Homo sapiens: one gene and its partners. The protein of the gene in region 1 purifies or fractionates together with the protein of each later gene. This does not show direct contact. Each region holds a gene or a part of one and is shown in the gene's direction. Other genes may lie near its edges. The genes, in order: HADHA, LAMA4, GPC1, OSBPL8, MTNAP1, GLG1 and NDUFAB1.

The links.
Region 2: the proteins of HADHA (region 1) and LAMA4 purify together in Homo sapiens (affinity purification with mass spectrometry; one large-scale study listed by BioGRID and IntAct). This does not show direct contact.
Region 3: the proteins of HADHA (region 1) and GPC1 purify together in Homo sapiens (co-immunoprecipitation; 3 studies listed by BioGRID and IntAct, with this or other methods). This does not show direct contact.
Region 4: the proteins of HADHA (region 1) and OSBPL8 purify together in Homo sapiens (co-immunoprecipitation; 2 studies listed by BioGRID and IntAct, with this or other methods). This does not show direct contact.
Region 5: the proteins of HADHA (region 1) and MTNAP1 purify together in Homo sapiens (co-immunoprecipitation; 2 studies listed by BioGRID and IntAct, with this or other methods). This does not show direct contact.
Region 6: the proteins of HADHA (region 1) and GLG1 purify together in Homo sapiens (co-immunoprecipitation; 2 studies listed by BioGRID and IntAct, with this or other methods). This does not show direct contact.
Region 7: the proteins of HADHA (region 1) and NDUFAB1 purify together in Homo sapiens (co-immunoprecipitation; 2 studies listed by IntAct, with this or other methods). This does not show direct contact.

What each region holds. Positions count from the first base shown.
Region 1 is NC_000002.12:26,234,633-26,238,132, reverse strand, and holds part of HADHA (trifunctional enzyme subunit alpha, mitochondrial precursor), read left to right. Parts: intron 1-1,144; coding exon 1,145-1,278; intron 1,279-3,500. UniProt on the Homo sapiens protein: Mitochondrial trifunctional enzyme catalyzes the last three of the four reactions of the mitochondrial beta-oxidation pathway.
Region 2 is NC_000006.12:112,251,768-112,255,927, reverse strand, and holds the start of LAMA4 (laminin subunit alpha-4 isoform 1 precursor), read left to right. Parts: upstream 1-1,360; 5' UTR 1,361-1,469; exon of another isoform or gene 1,470-1,486; intron 1,487-1,636; 5' UTR 1,637-1,777; coding exon 1,778-1,972; coding exon of another isoform or gene 1,973-2,140; intron 2,141-4,160. UniProt on the Homo sapiens protein: Binding to cells via a high affinity receptor, laminin is thought to mediate the attachment, migration and organization of cells into tissues during embryonic development by interacting with other extracellular matrix components.
Region 3 is NC_000002.12:240,463,163-240,466,662, forward strand, and holds part of GPC1 (glypican-1 precursor), read left to right. Parts: intron 1-184; coding exon 185-350; intron 351-1,453; coding exon 1,454-1,584; intron 1,585-1,693; coding exon 1,694-1,813; intron 1,814-1,914; coding exon 1,915-2,048; intron 2,049-2,310; coding exon 2,311-2,486; intron 2,487-2,895; coding exon 2,896-3,128; 3' UTR 3,129-3,500. UniProt on the Homo sapiens protein: Cell surface proteoglycan that bears heparan sulfate. Binds, via the heparan sulfate side chains, alpha-4 (V) collagen and participates in Schwann cell myelination.
Region 4 is NC_000012.12:76,357,272-76,360,771, reverse strand, and holds part of OSBPL8 (oxysterol-binding protein-related protein 8), read left to right. Parts: intron 1-1,960; coding exon 1,961-2,066; intron 2,067-3,500. UniProt on the Homo sapiens protein: Lipid transporter involved in lipid countertransport between the endoplasmic reticulum and the plasma membrane: specifically exchanges phosphatidylserine with phosphatidylinositol 4-phosphate (PI4P), delivering phosphatidylserine to the plasma membrane in exchange for PI4P, which is degraded by the SAC1/SACM1L phosphatase in the endoplasmic reticulum.
Region 5 is NC_000017.11:73,245,933-73,249,432, forward strand, and holds the end of MTNAP1 (mitochondrial nucleoid-associated protein 1), read left to right. Parts: intron 1-1,308; coding exon 1,309-1,409; 3' UTR 1,410-2,561; coding exon of another isoform or gene 2,562-2,604; 3' UTR 2,605-3,027; downstream 3,028-3,500. UniProt on the Homo sapiens protein: Critical regulator of mitochondrial DNA (mtDNA) abundance. Binds dsDNA throughout the mitochondrial genome without sequence specificity and controls mtDNA copy number by promoting its replication.
Region 6 is NC_000016.10:74,600,615-74,604,114, reverse strand, and holds part of GLG1 (Golgi apparatus protein 1 isoform 3 precursor), read left to right. Parts: intron 1-3,500. UniProt on the Homo sapiens protein: Binds fibroblast growth factor and E-selectin (cell-adhesion lectin on endothelial cells mediating the binding of neutrophils).
Region 7 is NC_000016.10:23,580,514-23,583,415, reverse strand, and holds the end of NDUFAB1 (acyl carrier protein, mitochondrial precursor), read left to right. Parts: intron 1-1,040; coding exon 1,041-1,132; 3' UTR 1,133-1,140; intron 1,141-2,242; 3' UTR 2,243-2,402; downstream 2,403-2,902. UniProt on the Homo sapiens protein: Carrier of the growing fatty acid chain in fatty acid biosynthesis.

The sequences.
Region 1 (3,500 bases):
TGAAGGCTGAGGTGGAAAGATCACTTAAGCCTAGGAATTCAAGGTTACAGTGAGCTATGATTGCACCACTGCACTCCAGCCTGGGCCACAGAGCAAGACCTTGTCTCTCTAAAAAACAACAACAACAAACTTATAGCCAGAGGCTTAGATGTAATAAGACCTAGATGGAAGCAGTTGACAACTATCACAAATTAAGGTAAATAAGAGCCATTCCCCTTTACTAGAGTAAATTTTAGCACTCACTAACCAATGATTCAAGCTTAAGATATTTTTTCAGAATTTTCTTAGGTTGGACATTTTTCCTGAACACAAAAGTAATATATGTCAATGGTAGAAAATTTTTCAACTATAAAAAATTATAAAGAAGAAAATAATAAACATTCATAATTCAAACCTAAAGATAACCACATCTTTTTCTTGGTATCTTCCATGGGATAATCACATTTAATTCAGTTTCAATGAATAATATTTACAAAACTAAGATCATACTATATGGTTTTTTTTGAAGATAGGGTCTCATTCTGTTGCCTAGGCTGGAGTGCAGTGGCACAGTCACAGGTTAGTGCAGCTTCAGCCTCCCCAGGCTCAGGTGATCCTCCCACCTAAGCCTCCTGAGTAGCTGGGACTATAGGCGTGTGCTGTCAGGCCCGGCTAATTTTTGTATTTTCTGTAGAGGCAAGGTTCCATTATGTTGCCCAGGCTGGTCTCGAACTCCTGAACTCAAGTGATCCGCCCACCTTGGCCTCCCAAAGTGCAGGGATTACAGGGATGAGCCACCATGCCTGGCCTATATGTCTTATTTGTATTTCATTTTTTTCTTAACATTATGCAGATTTTTTCCATGCCAATAAATGTTTGTAGACCTATTTGTTTATAGCCTACATATGATTCAAACTCTGAGGATGACCCTGAGTTTCTCCTTTGAGAAGACCTATTTTTAAAGGAAGGGGTGCTTGTAGTGGGCCAAAGCTGCCTGAATAGAAAGCTACTGACTTGCTGGGAGAATGATATTTCTTACTCTCTTCTAACAGTATATTTCTGCCGGATAAGTATATTTCTTATAATCAAAATAGCATTTGATGGTGGTACGTACATCCAGTGCTTCAAATTTAAACCCTTACCTGTATATATTTCCCTTTGGCAGGTAAATACACTGAGTAAAGAGCTACATTCAGAGTTCTCAGAAGTTATGAATGAAATCTGGGCTAGTGATCAAATCAGAAGTGCCGTCCTTATCTCATCAAAGCCAGGCTGCTTTATTGCAGGTGCTGATATCAAGTAAGTTTTAGGAAACTTGAAGTCACCTTTTATCTTGGTTAATAGTGTGTTTCTTAGGCCTAATAATTTCTCCTTTTAAAAGAAAGTAGAAGTGCTGGGCACAGTGACACAGGCCTGTAAAATTGAAAATGTACGTATCAGGCTGGGTGTGGTGGTTCTTGCCTGTAATCCCAGCACTTTGGGAGGCCGAGGCAGGTGGATCACATGAGGCCAAGAGCTCAAGACCAGCCTGGCCAACATGGTGAAACCCTGTCTCCACTAAAAATACAAAAATTAGGCATGGTGGCACACGCTTGTAATCTCAGCTACTCAGGAGGCTGTGGCACGAAAATCCCTTGAACCTGGGAGGCAGAGGTTGCAGTGAGCCGAGATCACACCACTGCACTCCAGCCTGGGTGACAGAGTGAGACTGTCTTAAAAAAAAAAAGTATATACACACACACACACACACACACACACACACACACACACACAGAGTATATATATATATATATACACACACACACACACACACATCATGTGATCTAGAGAAATCTCACCCCTTGTTTATAAGAACCAGTGTACAAGGATGTTTGGTCCTGTGTAGTGTGAAATAATGAAGAATTTAAAACCAAATGTCAGTCAGTAGGAAAATGGGTAAGTAAAATGTGGACTATTCACACAATAGAATACTACAAAACAGGTAAAAGGAATTAACTAGATCCACAATATGATGTTAGAACTCAAAAACATAAGGTTAAGTTAAAAGAAAAGCAAATTGCAGAATGTTTCATACAGTATATAGTTTCTATAAATGTTTTAAAACCAAACATGGAATAATTCTTGATACTATTTATGGACACAATCGTAGTTGGTCTGGAAGGAGACACTACAAACATGAAGATGGCTGCTTTGGGGAAATGAAGTGGGTGGTAGGACTTGATTGTTAAAGGCAGCTTTACAGATGCAGCTAGTATTTTCTTTTCCTCTGCTAAATGGTGGAATGCATGCCTACATTAACTTATTTACAATTGTTTACACATACATAAGGAGGGGAAATGATATTTTAGTGTCAGTTTAATAGGTTAAAATGTTAAGTTGTCAATTCCATTAAAATATGGGTATTTGTTATGTTCTTTGTATTTTAGACAATGATAGCCAGCATTGTAGGTTTAGTAATTTGTACTGAAAGTGTAATTATTTATGTGTAGTAATCAGTCTCTTGTTAGGCACAAATAATTCAGCTAGAAGAAAAACCACTTGATAAGATAATTTTGGGTCTTCTAAAAAATTAACATTAAACAGAACATTTATAAAGTCTAACAAGACACTGATGTACCTGGCAGTAGCTACCTATATCCAGAGGAAAATACATGTAGCTTCTATGAGGCCAGCTGAGCAACTCTCAGTGTATAAAATTACAGAATATACTAGTTATCCTTGGTCAAAAGTACAAAATCCATATCCTAAGTGTGTTCACAAAATAGCAAATGAAACAAACTGAAATTAAAGGACATTGAGTGGAACATCATTGCACCTGATCATTTTTATTTACTTATTTATTTTTGAGACGGAGTCTCCCTCTGCTGTCCAGGCTGGAGTACAGTGGTGCGATCTCGGCCCACTGCAACCTCCACCTCCCAGGTTCCAGTGATTCTCTCGCCTCAGCCTCCCGAGTAGCCAGGACTACAGGAATGCAGCACCACGCCCAGCTAATTTTTGTATTTTTAGTAGAGACGCGGTTTCACCATGTTGACCAGCCTGGTCTCGAACTCCTGACCTCAGGTGATCCACCTGCCTTGGCCTCTCAAAGTGCTGGGATTACAGGCATGAGCCACCATGCCTGGCCTACCTGGTCATTTTTATTCATTAGTGGGATCTGTTAAAATGTTTTAGATTTCTCTAAACAACCTGGAAGCTTTTCTTTTGCGTCATTTTTATTGCTGTTAACTACCTGATAGTGAAATGTTTAATCTGATAGTGAAGTAATTTACCAAAGATGATTTTCCCTTGTACCAAGCTTTGTAATTTAATGATTTATTACAGAAGTAAAAATAAATTATGCAACACATTTATGTTTTCTGGATCCAGAATTTTTTTTTTTTTTTTTGAGACAGAGTCTCACTCTGTCGCCCAGGCTGGAGTGCAGTGGCGCGATCTCGGCTCACTGCAAGCTCCACCTCCCGGTTTCACACTGTTCTCCTGCCTCAGCCTCCCAAGTAGCTGGGACTACAGGCGCCCGC
Region 2 (4,160 bases), on another chromosome or scaffold:
ATGAGCCACCACGCCCAGCCCTAAATGAGACAATTTATGTGATTTTTTTGCACATGGGAGGCACTCAAAAAATAAAAGTGTCCATTTCCTTCACCTCTGAATTCATACTCTTTATTTTAAAGTTGCAGTGTCGTGTATACAGATGTAAAAGAGAGCTTTGGAATCAGTGAGGCCTGGATCCAAACCCCATCTCTGCTTTCCACCAGCTGTGCGACCTTGGGCAAATGTCCTAGTCTCTCTGAACCTCACTTTCTTCTTCTGTAAAAGGAAAATAATGGTACTACTTTGCAGGAATGCTGAGGTTTACAAATAGCATATGCCAAGTATCTGGCACATGTTAGGTGCAAAATAAATGGTTTTGCTTACACTTAGATAAAATGACTTTTGTTCTATGAAATGGAGCTAATGATTAGGTTTTATGGAAAGGCTTTATTTATTTATTTTATGATTAGGTTATACAAAAATGCTTTATTTCACCTGGAAGCTTACCTGGGTGTCATTTTATGGTTGTCTCATCTGACCATTTTTAAACCATGGTTGGATCTTGTGGAAATGTTTAGAGCTCGTTATGAAGCCAATGTAAACAAAGGTACCTATCAGCTGTTGCAGACACTATCCCATCCACAGGGGCACCCCTGACATAGCTGTAGCCCAACTTCACCCTGAAGTCTTGGAAAGGTTACATGATTCAGACAGATGTAGTAGGCATGAGATTACAGGCCAAGAGGAAGAGGCCGGGGCTGTAGGCAGTATACTTGACAGGCTCATACACTGCAAGCCTTGTTCCGGGCCCCTTACAAAGCACCTCTTTAGGATGAAAACAAGATGGTCTTTGTAAATAAAAGTTCATGCATTTGGGTAATGAAGTCATTTTCCAGCGCTGCAGTGAAAGATATTCTTCTCCCAAGCCCTCTGGGTGAGGACTGGAGGGAGGAAGAGGGGTGGCCAGTGAATCTGAAGAGAAGATATTAGCACAAAGAGTGCAACAGTCTATCCCCCAGAAAAAACCCGAGAAACCTTGCTCAAGAAAGTGGGCACCCTGACCCTCTGCCTTCAGAGATCATCTACCTTTGGTTCCTGCCCTGGAATCCCTTTTCCACCCACTTTCCTGCAAACTAGCGGGGGCCACATAAAATATCTATGTAAATATAGATAAGACATCCGGTACCTTGACTACATAAATAAGAGTGGTGAGGAAGCGTCACAAAAGCTGAATATTCTTCTGGAGCCCTTGGAGGGGCTCCAAACTGAGAGGGGAGGGAAGACCGCAGGGAAAGGCGGACCTCAGTGTCTGAAAAGCCAGCTTAGAGTGGGAGGGCCTGGGAGTAGAAGGTAAAAAGGGAGTGGTGAGAATGAATGTGAGAAGGAAGCCAGGACAGCGCAGTCCCCAGTCCCGAACGGCCAGGGAGAGGAGGTGGCCTAGCGCTGGCGGGGCTCACCCCAATCCGTCTGCCTTTTGATGCCGTACTGTAAGCTCCGTCCATCTGTAGGTTCTTGAGCCAGAACCTCTGCGGGAAGGAGAAAAAGTGAAAGAGGGAGAGGGAGAGGGAGAGAGAGGGGGAGAAGGGGAGAGAGAGAGAGGGAGAGAGAGGCTGGAACTCTCCCTTACTCTCGCACTTTCCCTTTATTTCCTAAGCTGCTGGTTGCGCAGCCACCTCGGGATACTGCACACGGAGAGGAGGGAAAATAAGCGAGGCACCGCCGCACCACGCGGGAGACCTACGGAGACCCACAGCGCCCGAGCCCTGGAAGAGCACTACTGGATGTCAGCGGAGAAATGGCTTTGAGCTCAGCCTGGCGCTCGGTTCTGCCTCTGTGGCTCCTCTGGAGCGCTGCCTGCTCCCGCGCCGCGTCCGGGGACGACAACGCTTTTCCTTTTGACATTGAAGGGAGCTCAGCGGTTGGCAGGCAAGACCCGCCTGAGACGAGCGAACCCCGCGTGGCTCTGGGACGCCTGCCGCCTGCGGCCGAGGTACAGTGTCCCTGCCATTGCCACCCTGCTGGGGCACCTGCGCCCCCGCGGGCTGTGCCACACTCGTCCTTCTCTCTCTCTCCGCCTCTTTCCTCTCCCCAGTGCCTTGAGAGTTTCACCTGGGCTAGGTCAGTTCGGAAACTTGAAATAAAGAGTTTTCCTTTGTAAGTTGCATTTGGATGTTGAGAGTTGAAAGTTGAGGCTTCGGAATGTGTCTGCTCAAAGGGGTGAGAGTGCATGTGTTGGTGCTCTGAGTTCATCCGCTAGACTCTCACCGGGGACTGCAGCAGCACATCGGTGACTTCTGCCACTTGCGTGTCCCAGTAGTCATTTTGTCAAGCCACGGCACTTAACGTGTGTGCCCTGTCACTGGCTTCCTGCTCCTCTGTGCTGTTAGGACAGTGGGAACACTACTGCAGGATCTTTTTGTCTCATATTAGACAAGAAGTCTTCTGCAGCAGGGAAGGTGAGGGGGTGAGTGAGAGTGGCTGGTCATGAAAGGAGCTGTTAGACAACTGCTGAGAGGGTATCTTAAGTAGAAACGAGCCATTGTATTCCAGAAACAAGATGTTTCCATTAAAATCAAGCCTCAGGATATGCTATTGATAATATGTTTATTCAAAGAGCTGCTGTTTGAATACCTTACAATAGCTTTTAAGTTGGAAACAAAACCAGAATGTAGAGGTCTGGTAAAGGAGAATGAATCCAGAACAAGTGATTTAAGAACCCCTGAACTGAAACAGACAACAGCATGCCCATTGCATGGGACATGCTAAGAGGGAGGAAAATAAAGTCACCTAAGTTCATGGGAAAGGAAGGAGCAATTGACCTAGCAAAACAAACACCACACTCTATAGCTATGGTTACAGCAACTGTACAACTAAAACAGTTATGTGGATTGACACCATTTCTAACATCACTGATGCATGGATTATTGCTATGAATTCTGTTAATTGTTAGTACAATTATAGTTATTAATTATTGATGATTAAAAATAAGGTGCATGAACATGGTCCTTCTTCAGAGTAAGCCCTACCCACATTGCCCCAAAAAAGAGAGTGGACAGGGTCAGAATATGCCAACCTCTCACTGTGGTATAAAATGTAGCCTCCATGAAAAAGAGGGAGCATGGCTTCTGGTCAACTTCATACCCAGAAACTTGGGGAGAAGCCAGACCAGGAGGGACTTCATGCAATGGGAAGGCTTTGCTTCTCTACAGGCTTGGAATTAACCCCAGGGAAGCATTATCTCCACCTGTTGCTTTGAGCACGTAAAGTCCCTGAATGAAATGCTTAATTTTACTTAAGAGTAAAATTGGCAGATAAATTGCAGGACACTCAAATGTGAATTTCAGATAAATAATGAATGAATTTTGATCACATCCCAAATACTGCAGAGGACATATTTATATTAAAATTTGTTTTCATTGTTCATCTGAAATTCAAATTTATCCGGGCATCCTGTATTTGTATCTGTTAGGTCTAAAGAGACAAGCCATATACAACTGTTTTTTGTAACTCTCATCCCACAAAAAAAATAGGAAAGTAATTTTTTGAGTTTTAGAGAACCTTAAAATTAATGCTAAGACCCTAGGAAATTTCTTATGTGCTCATATGTTTGGTGAAATAATAGGAAGGCAGCACAGCAAAGTGTTTCAGATTGCAGGTTTTCAGTCTGATGGTCCCAAGTTGAAATTTCAAGCTCTTTGACCTTGGTCAAGTTACAGATCCCCAGACTGCAGATAAACTGATACTGACAGAATTTATTGATGCCTGCTTCATACCTCATACTTTTATTGTAATGAAATTAGATAAAATAGAGTGCTTAGCATAGTGCTTGACATAGTATAAATGCCCTATATATGCCAAGAGTTGTTACAATTGTTACTATAAAAAATGTGGATGATGATCAGATTAAAAGAAACCCTTATTTGAGAATATTCCTTAGAACCTTATGTTTATGGTTTTCTTTTACTTAATATTATTATATCTGTTTATCTATATTCTTCCAGCTGGAAAAAAAATGTCACGTAGTGAATTAAATTTGTAGTAATGTCAGAGTCTAATAGGTTCAGAATGCCAGTGGAGGCCTTCAGTTTTGAAAAACAGAAAGAAGATATTAGTCATTCCAGGAAGGTCAAAGTATATGGTGTAGAAAGGGTGAGATTGAGGTAATTATGTTCCCACTG
Region 3 (3,500 bases), about 210 Mb from region 1:
AAATGAGGGCCGTCTGGGCTGGCAGGCCCTGCGAGTCAGGCAGCGACCACCACGAGCTGGGGCAGAGCAGAGGCCTCCCCTGACTTCCCTCCAGAGCCCCCTACCCTGGGGCTTCGTTAGGGGCTGGCCGGGGCCAGGCACCCCCAGGGCCTCGGGGCCTGGCTTAGGGTCCCTTGCTCCCCAGGTCCCCCTGGGCCCGGAGTGCTCGAGAGCTGTCATGAAGCTGGTCTACTGTGCTCACTGCCTGGGAGTCCCCGGCGCCAGGCCCTGCCCTGACTATTGCCGAAATGTGCTCAAGGGCTGCCTTGCCAACCAGGCCGACCTGGACGCCGAGTGGAGGAACCTCCTGGGTGAGCCCCCACCCGCGAGAGCGGCCTGGAACTGTCTTGGGGAGTGCACGACTGGGGGTCCTGGGGGGCGGGTGGTCCCTAGCTTAGAGCTTGGACCCAGGGACCTGATCAGGGATGCCCTGACCCGGGCCAGATCTGGGTGGTGCTGCAGGGTTGAGGGGCCAGGGTGCCTTTTGAATGTCCTGAGTGATGTGTGACTTGGGGCAGCTGCCAGGGAGGGAGCCCTGTGGGGTCATAGTTTCTTGTCCTTCCCCACTTAGCAAGCACCTCGGTGTGCATACATGCCAACACGTGTGACTCATCGAGGACCGGCACTTGTTTAAGCTAACACATACATGCACCGTCACATGACAGGCTGACACATGCGAACTGGCGTGCTCACTTGCTGACACACAGTGGGCCAGTGCCCACCAGTACAGCGTGTGCTCCTGGGCGCATGTGATGACATGAGCTGGGCTGACCCGCATCAATGCCAACACGTGTGTGGTAATATGTACATGCTTATCCAGATCCACTAACATGTACACATGCTTACATGAGGGGGGACAGCATGCATCTGTGCCAACACGTGCTAGCATGTGCTGACACGGGGCCAACAGGTGTGTGCTAACGTGATGGGAGCTGACAAAATGCATGAGCTTTACTTGTACATGTGCTCACCGTGCACGCAACACACACATGAACTAAGGTGTACATGGGGGGGGCATGAGGTAAGCCAGCATGCATACACACCAGCTCACACGGGCTCATGTGCACACAAGCTGGACCAAGGTGAGCCAGCGTATGTACATGTCAACACCTGCATGAGCCAGCGTGGACATACGAGACACGGCAGGCCAGCAAGCATGCAGAATGGCCTCTGTGTATGTGCGTGTTCACCTGTGCCCGTGGCACAGGTGCACACGTGGGTGTGGGCCAAGCTGAGTGCACGTGGCCTGCACATGTCACACGGGCCAACCTGAGTGCACACGTGGGATCTCCCATGCTGACCCGTGCTGTCAAGACTGCATTAACATGCACACGTGGTGACGCCTGCGTGTGCGTGTCAACGCCTGTGTGCGCGCGTTAACGCCTGTGTGTCCGCGTGTTAACGCCTGTCCTAGACTCCATGGTGCTCATCACCGACAAGTTCTGGGGTACATCGGGTGTGGAGAGTGTCATCGGCAGCGTGCACACGTGGCTGGCGGAGGCCATCAACGCCCTCCAGGACAACAGGGACACGCTCACGGCCAAGGTGCGGGCAGGAGGACGTGACGAGCACAGCGGGGTGGGGGTCCTGGATGTGGCCCCATTGGGCTTGAGGGGCCCCACTACCCCCCAAGGACCCTGCAGTGTCTCTCCAGGTCATCCAGGGCTGCGGGAACCCCAAGGTCAACCCCCAGGGCCCCGGGCCTGAGGAGAAGCGGCGCCGGGGCAAGCTGGCCCCGCGGGAGAGGCCACCTTCAGGCACGCTGGAGAAGCTGGTGAGTGGCCCCTGCGTGTCCACTGGACCAGGCATGAGGGAGGCAGACAGGCAGAGGCGGGCGGGCCCTGGCAGCCCAGTGGCCTGACTGCTGCCCCACAGGTCTCCGAAGCCAAGGCCCAGCTCCGCGACGTCCAGGACTTCTGGATCAGCCTCCCAGGGACACTGTGCAGTGAGAAGATGGCCCTGAGCACTGCCAGTGATGACCGCTGCTGGAACGGGATGGCCAGAGGCCGGTAGGTGCCCACCTGGCTGGCACAGCCCTCCCTCCCATGCCGCCTCCATTGGGCTGTGCCTGGGCCAGGTGCTGTCTGCACGGGGCCACGTCCCTTGCTGGAGGGCTTGAGCCCCACTTCTCTGCGGCCTGTGTGGGCTCTGCTCGGTCCCTGGAAGCTGCTGGGCATCTCAGGCTCAGAGCGTGGGAGAGTGTCCTGCTCAGGTGATGGCCCTTTGCAGGGGCTGGAGCAGTGACCTGGGCTCTGCCTGCCTTTCCCCCAGGTACCTCCCCGAGGTCATGGGTGACGGCCTGGCCAACCAGATCAACAACCCCGAGGTGGAGGTGGACATCACCAAGCCGGACATGACCATCCGGCAGCAGATCATGCAGCTGAAGATCATGACCAACCGGCTGCGCAGCGCCTACAACGGCAACGACGTGGACTTCCAGGACGCCAGTGAGGGCAGGGCCTGGCCGGGCGGCCAAGGGGCCAGGGTTGGTGGGGGTGCCACAGGGGTGTGACTGCCCTCCGGGTTCCCCCACCCGAGGGGCCCTCTGCTCCGGCATCACCACAGTGAGTCTGAGGACGCTGTGCTGCCCAGGCACGATCACCGAGCCCTGCACCTCTGCGGCGCCCTGGAGGCCTGGCCGGGATGTCTGTTGGCTTTGGCTCCAGGGACCAAGGGAGGCAGCCCCAGGGAGTGAGAGTCTCCCAGCCTCAGGGGTCAGCGGGGATCAGGTGCTGCTGGTCCTGGGATTCCACACCGAAAGGATGTTGGGGTCACCTGGCACGGGCCCTTACAGGGTGGTGCTGCACTGGGGTCTCCTGTGGGGACCTGCCTGCCGGAGCCTCCTCTCCTTCCCAGGTGACGACGGCAGCGGCTCGGGCAGCGGTGATGGCTGTCTGGATGACCTCTGCAGCCGGAAGGTCAGCAGGAAGAGCTCCAGCTCCCGGACGCCCTTGACCCATGCCCTCCCAGGCCTGTCAGAGCAGGAAGGACAGAAGACCTCGGCTGCCAGCTGCCCCCAGCCCCCGACCTTCCTCCTGCCCCTCCTCCTCTTCCTGGCCCTTACAGTAGCCAGGCCCCGGTGGCGGTAACTGCCCCAAGGCCCCAGGGACAGAGGCCAAGGACTGACTTTGCCAAAAATACAACACAGACGATATTTAATTCACCTCAGCCTGGAGAGGCCTGGGGTGGGACAGGGAGGGCCGGCGGCTCTGAGCAGGGGCAGGCGCAGAGGTCCCAGCCCCAGGCCTGGCCTCGCCTGCCTTTCTGCCTTTTAATTTTGTATGAGGTCCTCAGGTCAGCTGGGAGCCAGTGTGCCCAAAAGCCATGTATTTCAGGGACCTCAGGGGCACCTCCGGCTGCCTAGCCCTCCCCCCAGCTCCCTGCACCGCCGCAGAAGCAGCCCCTCGAGGCCTACAGAGGAGGCCTCAAAGCAACCCGCTGGAGCCCACAGCGAGCCTGTG
Region 4 (3,500 bases), on another chromosome or scaffold:
CAAACCTTGGCAGCTTCCACATGGTGTTGAGCCTGTGGTGCACAGAAGTCAAGAATTGAGGTTTGGGAACCTCCACCTCGATTTCAGAAGATGTATGGAAACGCCTGGATACCCAGGAAAAAGATTGCTGCAGGGGCACGGCCCTCATGAAGAACCTCTGCTAGCACAGTGCAGAAGGGAAATCTGGGGTCGGAGCCCCCCACAGAGTCCCTACTGGGGCACTGCCTAGTGGAGCTGTGAGAAGCGGGCCACCGTCCTCTAGACCCCAGAATGGTAGATCCACCAACAGCTTGCACTGTGCACCTGGAAAAGCCGCAGACACTCAGCGCCAGCCCATGAAAGCAGCCAGGAGGGGATACCCTGCAGAGCCACAAGGGTGGAGCTGCCCAAGACTATGGGAACCTACCTCTTGCATCAGCATGATCTGGATATGAAACGTGGAGTCAAAGGAGATCATTTTGGAGCTTTAAAATTTTGGAGCTTTAAAATTTGACTGCCCCACTGGATCTCAGACTTGCATGGGCCCTATGACCCCTTTGTTTCCAAATTTCTCCCATTTGGAACAGTTGTATTTACCCAATGCCTGTACCCCCATTGTATCTAGAAAGTAACTAGCTTGCTTTTCATTTTACAGGCTCATAGGCAGAAGGGACTTGCCTTGTCTCAGATGAGATTTTGGACTGTGGACTTTTGGGTTAATGCTGAAATGAATTAAGACTTTGGGGGACTGTTGGGAAGGCATGATTGGTTTTGAGATGTGAGGACATGAGATTTGGAGGGGCCAGGGTAGAATGATACGATTTGGCTCTGTGTCCTCACCCAAATCTCATCTTGAATTGTACTCCCATAATTCCCACGTGTTGTGGGAGGGACTTGGTGGGATCTCACCTTGAATTGTACTCCCATAATTACCACGTGTTGTGGGAGGGACTTAGTGGGAGATCATTTGAATCATAGGGGCAGTTTCCCCCATATTGTTCTCGTGGTAGTGAATAAGTCTCACGAGATCTGATGGTTTTATCAGAGGTTTCCACTTTTGCATCTTCCTCATTCTCTCTTGCTGCCACAATGTAAGAAGTGCCTTTTGCCATCTGCCATGATTTTGCGACCTCTGCAGACATGTGGAACCATAAGTCAAATTAAACCTCCTTTTCATCCCAGTCTCGGGAATGTCTTTATCAGGAGCATAAAAACTGACTAATACATCTTGTCTTTCTGATTCTAGTTTCTTCTCTTGCATTTAGGTTTTTAAGTTTAATACTGAACACCAAAATTACAAATCTATTAATAGGATAGAGTCCAAAGTTATTATTCTAAGGAAAATTTAGTCATAGTTGATGGTTTCATATACTTTTGAATCTTGTGCATCCACTTCAATCCTTTCAGTAAGTTTAAATAATGCTCTACAAAATAATGGTATCATTTTTATTTATTATAAGATACTTTCTGTACTACCCAGATGTGATTAAAAGTAAATAAACCGTTTTACTGGAAACCCAGCATTGTTCAGTGGGAATGTTTCTAACATTGGGAACAAAATAAATATGATTTATACACACTATTATTTAACATTCTATTATTTAACATTCTACTAGAGAATAATAATAGCTGGTGCAGTCAGAGGTAGGGGGATCTATATTCATATTTGTTTATGTATACATAATAATATCCCTGGATATAAACTAATAGTGATGGGTACCTATTTAGTGGGAGAGAGACTGGGTATACTCTTCATTGTGTATTTTACTTTTTGACATTTGTGCCAAAGTACTTCCTATTAAAATAAGATCATTTGATTGCATAAGTGCATCACATTTGTTAAATTTGAATTAGACTATTTCATCATTGTCTTTATTTCTGAATATCATGCCTATGTGCAGATAATTTTGACAATTGTACACAGTTGGTCTTTAGTCCAAAATACAGTGCAAATTCACAAAATAGTTATTTTTTTCTTTAGGTTAGCGTCCCCAAAATGAAACATAAGCCAACCAGGCAACAGAAGAAAGTAGCAAAAGGCTATTCCTCCCCAGAACCTGACATTCAAGACTCCTCTGGAAGTGAAGGTAAAAATATTTATTGCAGACTAATGAGAGTCTAACTTTTTAATTACTACACAATTTGATATGAATATGGTTTTTCATATTAACTCAAGTTATGTGAGTTTTGGTCGGGGCAGGGTTGAGATACAAAAGCAATTCTAGATCATAGATAAGTTGTGAGACCAGGACGCAAGGTAAAGAAACAGAAAATGAAAAAGGGGAGACATCTAAATAAAAACCACACTCTAGGCAGGGTGTGGTGGCTCATGCCTGTAATCCCAGTACTTTGGGACGCCGAGGTGGGCAGATCACTTGAGGCCAAAAGTTCAAGACCAGCCTGGCTAACATGGGGAAACCCCGTCTCTACTAAAAATATGAAAAAATTAGCCAGGTGCGGTGGTGCACACCTGTAATCCCAGCTACTTGGGAGGCTGAGACACGAGAATTGCTTGAACCCCGGAGATGGAAGATGCACTGAACCGAGATCACACTACTGCACTCCAGCCTGGGTGACAAAGTGAGACCCTGTCTCAAAAAAAAAAAAAAAAAAAAAAGAACCACACTCTAGTAGTAGCTACCTCTTATGCCTTGTTAACCTCTGAAAAATTGCTGATGGTTCCCTAGATTGAATTCAGAAGCATTTTTTGAGCTTTGAACTCAGTTCCATGCTTCAAAAATGTTTTTCATTTCCAGAATAAATTACTGTAGTGTTTGGAAGTGACAGACAATAAAAATATAAAACTTAGCAACTGCTAGCTTAAATTGTACTCCATTCTTATTCGAGTCAGATAATGTGTAAAGTATCTTGAACTACATTGAGATATAATCATGAAAGGATTAAAGTGATGTTTGTGACATGACAAAAAAAAAAAAACTTTAAGCCATAATCTCTACTGAGTTTACACTGAACTAGGGAGCTCATTTTAACCTATAAAGATAACACTAGAAGTGAATAAATGGTAGATTACTAAGAAATTAGATGACAAGTGATAAAGAGTTTAAAGGAGAGGGAGCTCAATTCAGTTTGAGGGAAAGTTCTTAGAATCCTGATGAATTATTAAGATTTCTAATGGATTATAGCAATCTAGGCTTGGAGAGTGGGGTAGGGGTAACATACTAGAGTAGTTAGAGGAATGAACCGAATAAAGGTTTAAAAGCAGGAGTCATGTGGCATACCAGTGTGTTAGAAGAGAGTATTGGTTGTATTGTTGTTATTCCCATTTTACGAGAAAAGAAACTGAGACACAAGTTAACCTGCCTAAGGTCACATACCCCATAAGTAGGTATATGTATGTTATATATGCAGATTTTTTGGCTCCTTAATTCACCCTGTCATCCACTTTACTATATTACTATAATGTATCAGCAGACATTTATTGAGTAATTAATTTGTGCCAGACTGTATGTTAAATACACCTTACAACAACCCTGTGAAGTCTGGTATTATTATCCCTATTT
Region 5 (3,500 bases), on another chromosome or scaffold:
CCTCTCCATTTGTTAGGGTTGTTTTTGGCTGGTGGGTTTTCTGTGTCTCTTCATCTCATCAAACTATTCAGTGTCTGATTTTTTGACTTCTGCTTTGGCCCACAGAGAGTAACTTGGATACTTACAGGTAGAAAAAGCTTTGAGGAAATTTAGGCAACGTTGATGGATAAGTGTTTCCCCAACCTCCTTTCTAACGTAGAGGGTTAGTTATATATCACACGCACACACCCGTCTGTCTCAGCTTTGCTTGTGGTGTCCTCATGCCAAAATACATGAGGTCAGTTCCTCTTATGTCCCAGCTCTTTTAAAACTACAGGAATGCTGGGTGCGGTGGCTCACGCCTGTAATCCCAGCACTTTGGTAGGCCAAGGCGGGCGGATCATGAAGTCAGGAGTTCAGGATCAGCCTGTGCAATGTGGTGAAATCCATCTCTACAAAAAAAAAATTGTAAAAAGTAGCTGAGCTCAGTGGCACACGCCTGTAGTCCCAGCTACTCAGGAGGTTGAGGCAGGAGAATCACTTGAGCCCAGGAGGCGGAGGCTGCAGTGAGCTGAGATTGTGCCATTGCATTCCAGCCTGGGTGATGGAAGTGAAACCTTGTCTCAAAAATCCCAAAAAACCTACAGGAAAGCCACAGCCAGCATGTGTTGACTTGTATGTCGTTTCTCTCTCTTCTCAAAGCTGGAATGCTGGGGCTACTTTTTACCTACCTTTTCTATTCCCAATCCCCTGCTCCTTTCCATCCCTAGTGGGAGTAATTTAATTCTGCAACAAATTCTCATAGTTAAGGTATTCAGCAATATATCCCTGTATCCTAGAATTCTCTGTAAGGAAAAAAGTTGTGGTTGAGGGGAAGAGTTCTACATTCAGTTATTTTAGTTTAATATTACTAAGAACTTCATTGGAACCCAGAACAATCTTCCCTGCCGAAAGAGCTTTGTGCCCATTCTCTGTGAATGCTCTTTAGGAGAGATGCTTAAGGATTCTCTCCACACCTCCCCATGTGTCCTTACTCAAGACCAGAAACTCTCAAGGTGAGAAGGTAGATGAGAATGACCTTCAGTAATACCCTCTTTCCCGGTCCCCCAGTTCCCTCGAGCAGGGGCAGCAGACCCCACTGTGACCCACGGACCAAAGCCAGCCCACTGCCTTGTTTTTGTATGTAGTCAAAATGTACAAAAACAAGCCCTGCTCATTTGGTTAGGTGGCATCCATGGCTGTTTCACACAACAACAGCAAAGTCGAGTAGTTGCGACAGAAACCATATGCCCTGAAAAGCTGAAAATATTTACTATCTGGCCTTTACAGAAAAATTGTGCCGACCCCTGCCCTGGAAGAGCACAGTACCTCCATGCATTGGTGTGGCGAAGACGACTGGGGATTGCCGCTCTAAAACATGTTTGGATTAGGAAGCACGTTTAAGTAGGAGAAGCCTTCGTGACTTCTCTCTAGTGCCTTCGTGCCCTGTGTTGCCCACTGAATTGCCCTGTAACACCTAAGTGTAGTGGTAGCATTAAGGGATAGCTTTTCAGCCCTCAAGGTTATCAGGAGCATTTGTATCACTGCTATAAATAAAGTAGTATCACTTGTCATAATCAGGGTGCTGAAACATAATGAAAAGGTTTAACTTAGTCACAGTAAATATTTTATATCCCTGAAAATAAGTTATTTAATGAGAATAGAACTATTTAATGATCCATGAGTCCTAAAAGGATATCTGCCTTGTATTGCCAAGTTTAAGGCAAAGGTGAGATCCTGTATTAATAAGAAGACAGCTTTTTTGTTTGACATTGGTAAGTACCAAGAATTCTAACTCACATATAGTAGGAAACAACAAAAAGTCTCCACTGACTTCTTTGAATTAGATACTGAGAATCCACAATACAGTAGTGTGGATAACTTTCAAGAAGCCATTGGAAACATCTCCACATTCTGGGATGACTTGTAAATGTCTACAGAGTAATGGAAGGAAAGGCTTCCTTGTCTGCTCATTGCTGCCACCTGGGTTGGGAAAATAATTGAAGATGTTTTCTCAAGTCCTTCAAGAATCTCTTCTTAATGTTCAGAATAGTTTAAGAGCGTTGTTGAGGTAAACTGATAGCTGATTATTTTCTGAGATTTAGATCTAAACAAACTCAGCATGACGAGGAAGCACACTTCACAGCTCCAGGGTGCAATACTGATGTAAAGTTGCCTCGTGAGGATACATTTTTCGCTCATGTATGCAAAATTCCTATCAGTTCATTTGCACAGCCAGTTCCAATCATGTATGTGATCACCAGATTAAAAGCTTCATCCAGAAAGACAAGACTCCTCAGAACGAATAGTAGACAAGTAAGACTGCTACCCACAGAAGCCAGTACGCTTCAGGTGTGAGGCGGGGTAACTACTCATCTCTTCACAGAGCCAAGGAAAGAAAAAGAACGTCTCTAACATGATTTACCATTTTAAACAGCCTTATAAGTTTTGTCTCTTAAAATCATGCTGCAGAAGGAGGGGGTAAAAGTCGTGTTCTGCCCTGTCTGTGGCATTGGAGTGCCCCGCTAGGTAAGAAGCAACGCTTAGATCTTGCTTCCAGGCAGCAGCTTGAATTCCCGAATCTTCCTGCAAGGTGCATACAAATGCAGCGTGAGAATCCATACACGTAATCCATATTCACCTTCCCATCCATCCCGCAGAAGAGGCATGGTGACACCCAGGCTACTGTCCATGCTTGAGAGGACGTATTTGAAGGTTCTGTTACTACAAGTTGGGAATATTCACGGACATGCCTGAATACCCCGGCTGTAACTCACACGTGGTCTGTGTAAGTGGATTAACCTCGGGGCGGCCTTGTTTAATCCTGAATAATATCTGAAAGACTGAGTTTACTTGGGAATGTGTAGTTTTTCTAATGCACATTAAAATTTATTTTAGCTGTTAAAAATAAAATCATTTTATTATCAGCAGACTCTTTTATACTTTATGGGGCATCTACATACTACTTCCGCCACTCTTCATAATAAAATTATTTGTAAAATATAAAAAGTACTCCCCTGAGCTGATTATATGCCTCTTCTAGAGCCTCACCTGTGAAATGGGTGGGTGTGTCCCTGGGTAAGTTACCCAGTTTACTGGAGCCTCCTTTGTACTGTAATTTAGGGATAATTATTCCTACTTTGCAGACATTTGGTGAGATTAGAAGTCTTACATGTGTTAATTCCAGCAACGTCTGTGATGGTAGGAACTCATTGACAGCAGCTGTTCTAAAGCCTGTAGTATGTGCCATCATACTATATATAAATTCCAACCTTGAACGGAGGAAGAGAGGCCCTACTGCAATCCACAGGCAGATCCAGCCAACATCTGGGGCTTGCTTTGTGCCGAGTGCCATGCAAGGTTTTTTACATGTGTTTTCTCCTTTTAGTTTCAAACAGTCCTGTGGCGTAGGTGCTATCCTGCTCATTTTCCAAAAAGAAAACGGGCTTGAGGTAGAGTGATTTGCCTACGTAGCTCTGTGC
Region 6 (3,500 bases), on another chromosome or scaffold:
TGGGTTTGAGAGTTCACTGAAGCCTCCACATTCCGGGTTCAAGTGATCTTCCCAGCTGGGCTTTCCAAAGTGCTGGGATTAGAGTTGTGAGCCACTGTGCCTGGCCTTGGGATTCTTTTTTTTTTTTTTTAACGCTCTCGGATGAGTCATGCTTTTAAAAAGGCCAAGTATATCATGGGTCCACTATGAAATAATAGATGTAATAGCCAGTAATGGTGTGTTAGTAGTCCTAGTTGTGTGTGTATAATTATTAGTAGTTCAAGTTATTTAAATAAAAACAAAAAATTAGAAAGTGTAAGGCAGAAAAGAAAAAATATTCCCTGGGCTGTTCTAGTAGGTGGAGTAATAATACCAAAGAAAGAGAAGATACTGTTGCTTAGTATGTGATAAGGAAGGCATGCTTGATGTTGTCAGTCATTTTAAAATACTTTACTTATTCTTGGTTGAAATGGCCAGTAGCACTTTTTTTTTTTCCACTAGTGTCTTGTATTTCGAAGTTTCAGATGGAGACCTTGGTTCCTTAGAAGTTTGTGGTGTTCAGCCGGGCGCAGTGGCTCACACTTGAAATCCTAGCCCTTTGGGAGGCTGAGGCAGGAGGATTGCTTGAGCTAGGAGTTCAGTACCAGCCTGGCAACATAGTGAGACACCGTCTCTAATAAAAAGTTTGTGATGTTCATAGATTAGATTTTCTTTTTTTTTTTTTTTTGAGACGGAGTCTTATTCTGTTGCCAGGCTGGAGTGCAGTGGTGTGATCTCGGCTCACTGCAACCTCTGACTCCCTGGTTCAAGCAGTTCTTCTGCCTCAGCGTCCCAAGTAGCTGGGATTACAGGCACGCACCACCTCGCCCAGCTAATTTTTGTATTTTTAGTAGAGACAGAGTTTCACCATGTTGGCCAGGATAGTCTTGATCTCCTGACCTCATGATCTGCCCACCTTGGTCTCCCAAAGTGCTGGGATTACAGTCATGAGCTATTGCGCCTGGCTGCTGCTGCTGCTGCTGCTGTTGTTGTTGTTGTTGTTGTTTGAGACGAAGTCTTGCCCTGTTGCTCAGGCTGGAGTGCAGTGGCACAATCTTGGCTCACTGCAACCTCTGCCTTCTGGGTTCAAGTGATTCTCCTGTCTCAGCCTCTTCATCACCTTGGCCAGGCTGGTCTTGAACTCCTCACCTTAGGTGATCTGCCTGCGTCGGCCTCCCAAACTGCTGGATTACAGGCATGAGCCATTGTGCGTGCCCCATAGATTTTCTTACACAGAAGTAGAGAGAATAGGGTAATGAGTCCCTGGGTATACATCACCCAGCTTCAACTGTTCCCACCCTTTTTTTTTTTTGAGAGACAGAGTCTCACTCTGTCACCCAGGCTGGAGTGCAGGGGCACGATCTTGGCTCACTGCAACCTCAGCCTCCCGAGTTCAAGCGATTTTCCTGCTTCAGCCTCCCAAGTAGCTGGGACTACAGGCATCCGCCACCACACCCGGCTAATTTTTGTATTTTTTAGTAGAGACAGGGTTTCACTATATTGGCCAGGCTAGTCTCGAACTCCTGACCTCGTGATCTGCCCGCCTCGGCCTCCCAAAGTGCTGGGATTACAGGCGTGAGTCACCGCGCCCAGCCCCGCCCTTTTATTTTTAGGGCACAGGGTTGGGAGGCTGGCATATTTAAAAGCAAATCCCAGATACTGTCATTTCAAATACTTCAAGCATGTCTGTGATAAATACTTTTTAAAAACTAGAAGGTTTTTTTTGTTTGTTTTTGTATTTAAATGTATAATCTTTCTTTTGCAAGTAATTCTGACACTAAAAAGAAAAACATAAAAAAATTCTTTCTTGCCACCTTTTCTTGATATATCAGTCTCAGATTATAAATTTGTAGCCATGCTCTAAGCTTTGCACAGAGTGAATGCTTTGTAAATATTTAAATAAACTAATTTAGGTATTGAACAGGAATTAACATTTCAGTGTTGCAAACCATAAACCCCCTTTTAGACTCATAGGTAAATATTTTTATACTCTGCTTTTAACCTTTCACTTAACTGTATACTTGAGATAGTGGACTACACCATCTCTATTGTCTCACTGTTGATAATGACTATCATTATCAATGATAATGATAATGAGGTGCTAGTGCTAGTGCTAGTGTTATTCTTTTAGCAGAGAAATAGGCTCAAAGAGCTAAAGTAAGTTGTCTGATGTTATATCCTAAGTGGTAGAGCTGGTGTTCAGGAAGTCCTTTTTGACTTAAAAGACCATACTCTTTCTAATGTACCATGGGTGGTTGTAGCTAAGGACATTAGTCTGTGACTGTTGAGAATGCCATAGGTTTATAAATGTATGCTAAATGGGACACAAGAACAACTGAGTTGTAACAGTGCATTGAAGTATTTGTAGATTTCTCAGGCAAATGCGTTATCACCCAACGCTAATTTAATTAGTCTGAGTGCATCATAAACCGAATTTCTGCTTTATGAAAAGAGTTTCAAATCCCAACTCACCTTAAGCAGGATTTGTACTAGAACACTGGAAGCATTTAGTTGTATTTCCTTGATATTTATATTGAATCCATGGAACATCACAAAAAGTGAACTGAGACTAGAGCTGTCAGTGCCATTAACTAACAAATGACTGTAAGCATTTTCTCTCTCTGCTTCCTGATGTGTTAAATGAGTAGTTGGGGTATACTTTTTTTTTTTTTTAATTTTAAGAGAGACAAGGTCTTGCCGGGTTGCCCAGGTTGGTCTCTAACTCCTGAGCTCAACCGACCCACCCTCCTCTGCCTCCCGGATGCTGAGGTTACAGGCGGAGCCACCACACCCTGCCCCTACAGTACGGTTTCTAAGATCTCTGCTGTCTAACTTATATGAGTCGTTTCCTGTATATATTCTCTGGGTATGTATATATTGTAAAGTTTCTAGGATTATATATGTACCAGTTCCTGATTCCATATTCATTCATGGAGGGAATCAGTGACAATGAATAATTCAAACAGCAATTAATCCAAACATTGTTTGGCTTTAGGATATATTATGATTGTTTTGTTTGAGCCAATATGGAATTTCCTCCTATGCTGTCTGTCTGGTTGGAAGCAATCTAACCACATAATCAAGTCATTATTGATCTTCTATTATACACCTATCATTGTGGAAGGACACTAGTACTTTAAGACACCACCATTGCTTACAGTTGGTTTGATAAGTGAGATTGTTGTGATCGAGAAGCGATTATATAAGAGTGTTAATCACTTGATGTCATACAGATAGTAAATTATTTTAGGGCAGTGTAATAAGACAAAATTAGGATTTAGATTTGGGTGGAACACAGCTCTGCTATTCTTAGCTTGAAATTTCTGTCACTGTTTTTTTTTGTTTTTTTTTTTTTTTTTTTTTTTGAGGTGGAATCTTTCTCAGTCGCCCAGATTGGAGTGCAATGGCGTATTCTTGGCTCACTGCAACCTCTGCCTCCTGGGTTCAAGTGATTTTTCTGCCTCAGCCTCCCGAGTAGCTGG
Region 7 (2,902 bases), on another chromosome or scaffold:
AGGCGCTCCTCACTTCCCAGACTGGGCAGCCGGGCAGAGGCGCTCCCCACATCTCAGACGATGGGTGGCCGGGCAGAGACGCTCCTCACTTCCTAGACAGGATGGCGGCCGGGAAGGGGCGCTCCTCACTTCCCAGACTGGGCAGCCGGGCAGAGGGGCTCCTCACATCCCAGACGATGGGCGGCCAGGCAGAGGCTGCAATCTCGGCACTTTGGGAGGCCAAGGCAGGCAGCTGGGAGGTGGAGGTTGTAGCTAGCCGAGATCACGCCACTGCACTCCAGCCTGGGCAACATTGTGCACTGAGTGAACGAGACTCCATCTGCAATCCCGGCACCTCGGGAGGCCGAGGCTGGCAGATCACTCGCGGTTAGGAGCTGGAGACCAGCCCAGCCAACACAGCGAAACCCTGTCTCCACCAAAAAAATACGAAAACCAGTCAGGCGTGGCGGCGCGTGCCTGCAATCGCAGGCACTGGGCAGGCCGAGGCAGGAGAATCAGGCAGGGAGGTTGCAGTGAGCAGAGATGGCGGCAGTACAGTCCAGCTTCGGCTCGGCATCAGAGGGAGACCATGGAAAGAGAGGGAGAGGGAGAGGGAGAGGGAGACCGTGGGAAGAGGGAGAGGGAGAGGGAGACCTTGGGGAGAGGGAGAGGGAGAGGGAGACCGTGGGAAGAGGGAGAGGGAGAGGGAGACCGTGGGGAGAGGGAGAGGGAGCTGGGTTTCTTTTACACAATGGTGATGGTTGCACAATGTGAATATACTAAAAACTACCAAATTATATGGTATATACAAGGAGGAATTTTCTATTATGTGAATTCTATCTCAACAAACAAACAAACAAACAAACAAACATACCTCCAAAGCATCGTACCCAACCTGTATGCATACTGTCTAGAAGCTAACTGGCCCACAACCTATATGGGATTCAAGGTTGCTGAAAGTTTTGATATACTTGTAGCTGTTGTAGAAGGGTCAGGTGTGTTCAGTTCTAAAGGATTTTTTTTTTTTAACTCTCTCACATTGTTGTATATTTTTCTTTTAGGGTTTGAAATTCCTGATATAGATGCTGAAAAGTTAATGTGTCCACAAGAAATTGTAGATTACATTGCAGATAAGAAGGATGTATATGAATAAAGTATCAGGTAAATAGACTTAAAAAATGATGTTCACCCATAGATTTGTCTGTGGTTCTTCAATAAAGGAAACTTAAGAAGAAACAGAAAATGGAAATGCTTGACCAAGATTTTTCACTACTTATAAAATGCAAGCCCTTTCCTGTTGTCTGCCACTCAAAGGGGCCCAGCCCTGGTGGTGATCTTTGAGAGGTTGAGAACTGTCATTCCTGGATAGAACTCCCTTGATTGTCAGCTGTCCTCACAAAAGCAGAACATTGTACAAAGTACTGAACAGGGTAACCTGGAAACAGACCTCTGTCTCCCTCAATTACTCAGCCAAGGTAAGCCCAGCCTGCTGGGTAAGACACTGAAGTGACCTGGCTCTTAAGTAGGCAAGAGAGGCCTCATGTATAAGAGGATGGACTTTGGAGTCAGAGACACCCAAGTTTATTCTCAGCTTTGCCACACACTATAAGCCTGGTGGTCTCAGGCAGGCTGCTTAGCTCTGTAAGCCTCAGTTTCCTCATATGTAATATGGTGGTAATGATAGGACCTACCTGGGGCTTTTGTGAAAGCAAAATTGAAGAGAGTATATATATCACTTGATATAATGATGTAAAGAAGCCTCTCAGTAAATAGTAGCTTTTGTTACTTGGGACCTAGAATAATCAAATAAGACTTTTTGAATTAAAACATTGTATTAGTGTTTTTAGTCTTTAGCTTTTAGTGACCCTGCATTTTTTTTTTTTTTTTTTTAAAGATGGAACCTTGCTCTGTTGCCCAGGCTGGAGTGTAGTGGCACAATCTCGGCTCACTGCAACCTCCGCCTCCTGGGTTCAAGCAATTCTCCGGCCTCAGCCTCCTGAGTAACTGGGATTACAGGCGTGCACCTCCACGCCCAGCTAATTTTTATATTTTTAGTAGAGATGGGGTTTCACCATGTTGGCCAGGCTGGTCTCGAACTCCTGACCTCAGGTGATCCGCCCAGCTTGGCCTCCCAAAGTGCTGAGATTACGGGCATGAGCCACTGCACTCAGCCAGAGGCTGCATTTTTAGCACCTGAAAGATGTCACTTATCATTAGTAAGAATACATCAAAAATAACATTGAACTTATTTTGTCTTTTCCAGACCCTTTGGCTTTGCTGAGAGAGGACTCAGATGATAGTGACGAATGTCTGGCAGTGAGGACACATTTTGGCATTCTTGCTGACTCTGACAGAGTGATTCTGATGGACTTGTATTTAAATTGTATGTGTTTTACTCTTTGAAAATAAATCTATAAAACCAACATTTTCCCCCATCTTCAGTTTTTCAATGATGTCTATAAAGTGCTTTTTTATGTTTGTATACTGACATTGCTTAATATTTTTAAAGGTCTGATTTGTCATTTGTATTCATGCATGTCAAAAACAATGGCTTCCCCAGCCATGTACTTGAAGTAAGGCTGTCTCCCCACCTTCGTATCAGGAGTGAATATATTCATGGAAATGGACTTTTTGCTTCAAAAAAAACTTTGTTTTGGTTTCCATTAGCTTATTATCAGATGTGTCAGCTGATATCAGCAGGTGGGACTAGTTTTTCATCACTGTCCTAAAGATCCCTTTTAATACAGTTTAACAGTTTTGGAGAATGGGAGGCTCTCTTTCCTCCTGGAAGGTCAGTTTGACATTGCCACACATCAAACCACAGTTTGATTTGTCACACATCATTATTGGTTCTGCCCCTTTTACTCTTAGCACTGTGTTGGTTCCTTGGGGTTGATGTAAATAACATGTATGCATTGCTTAG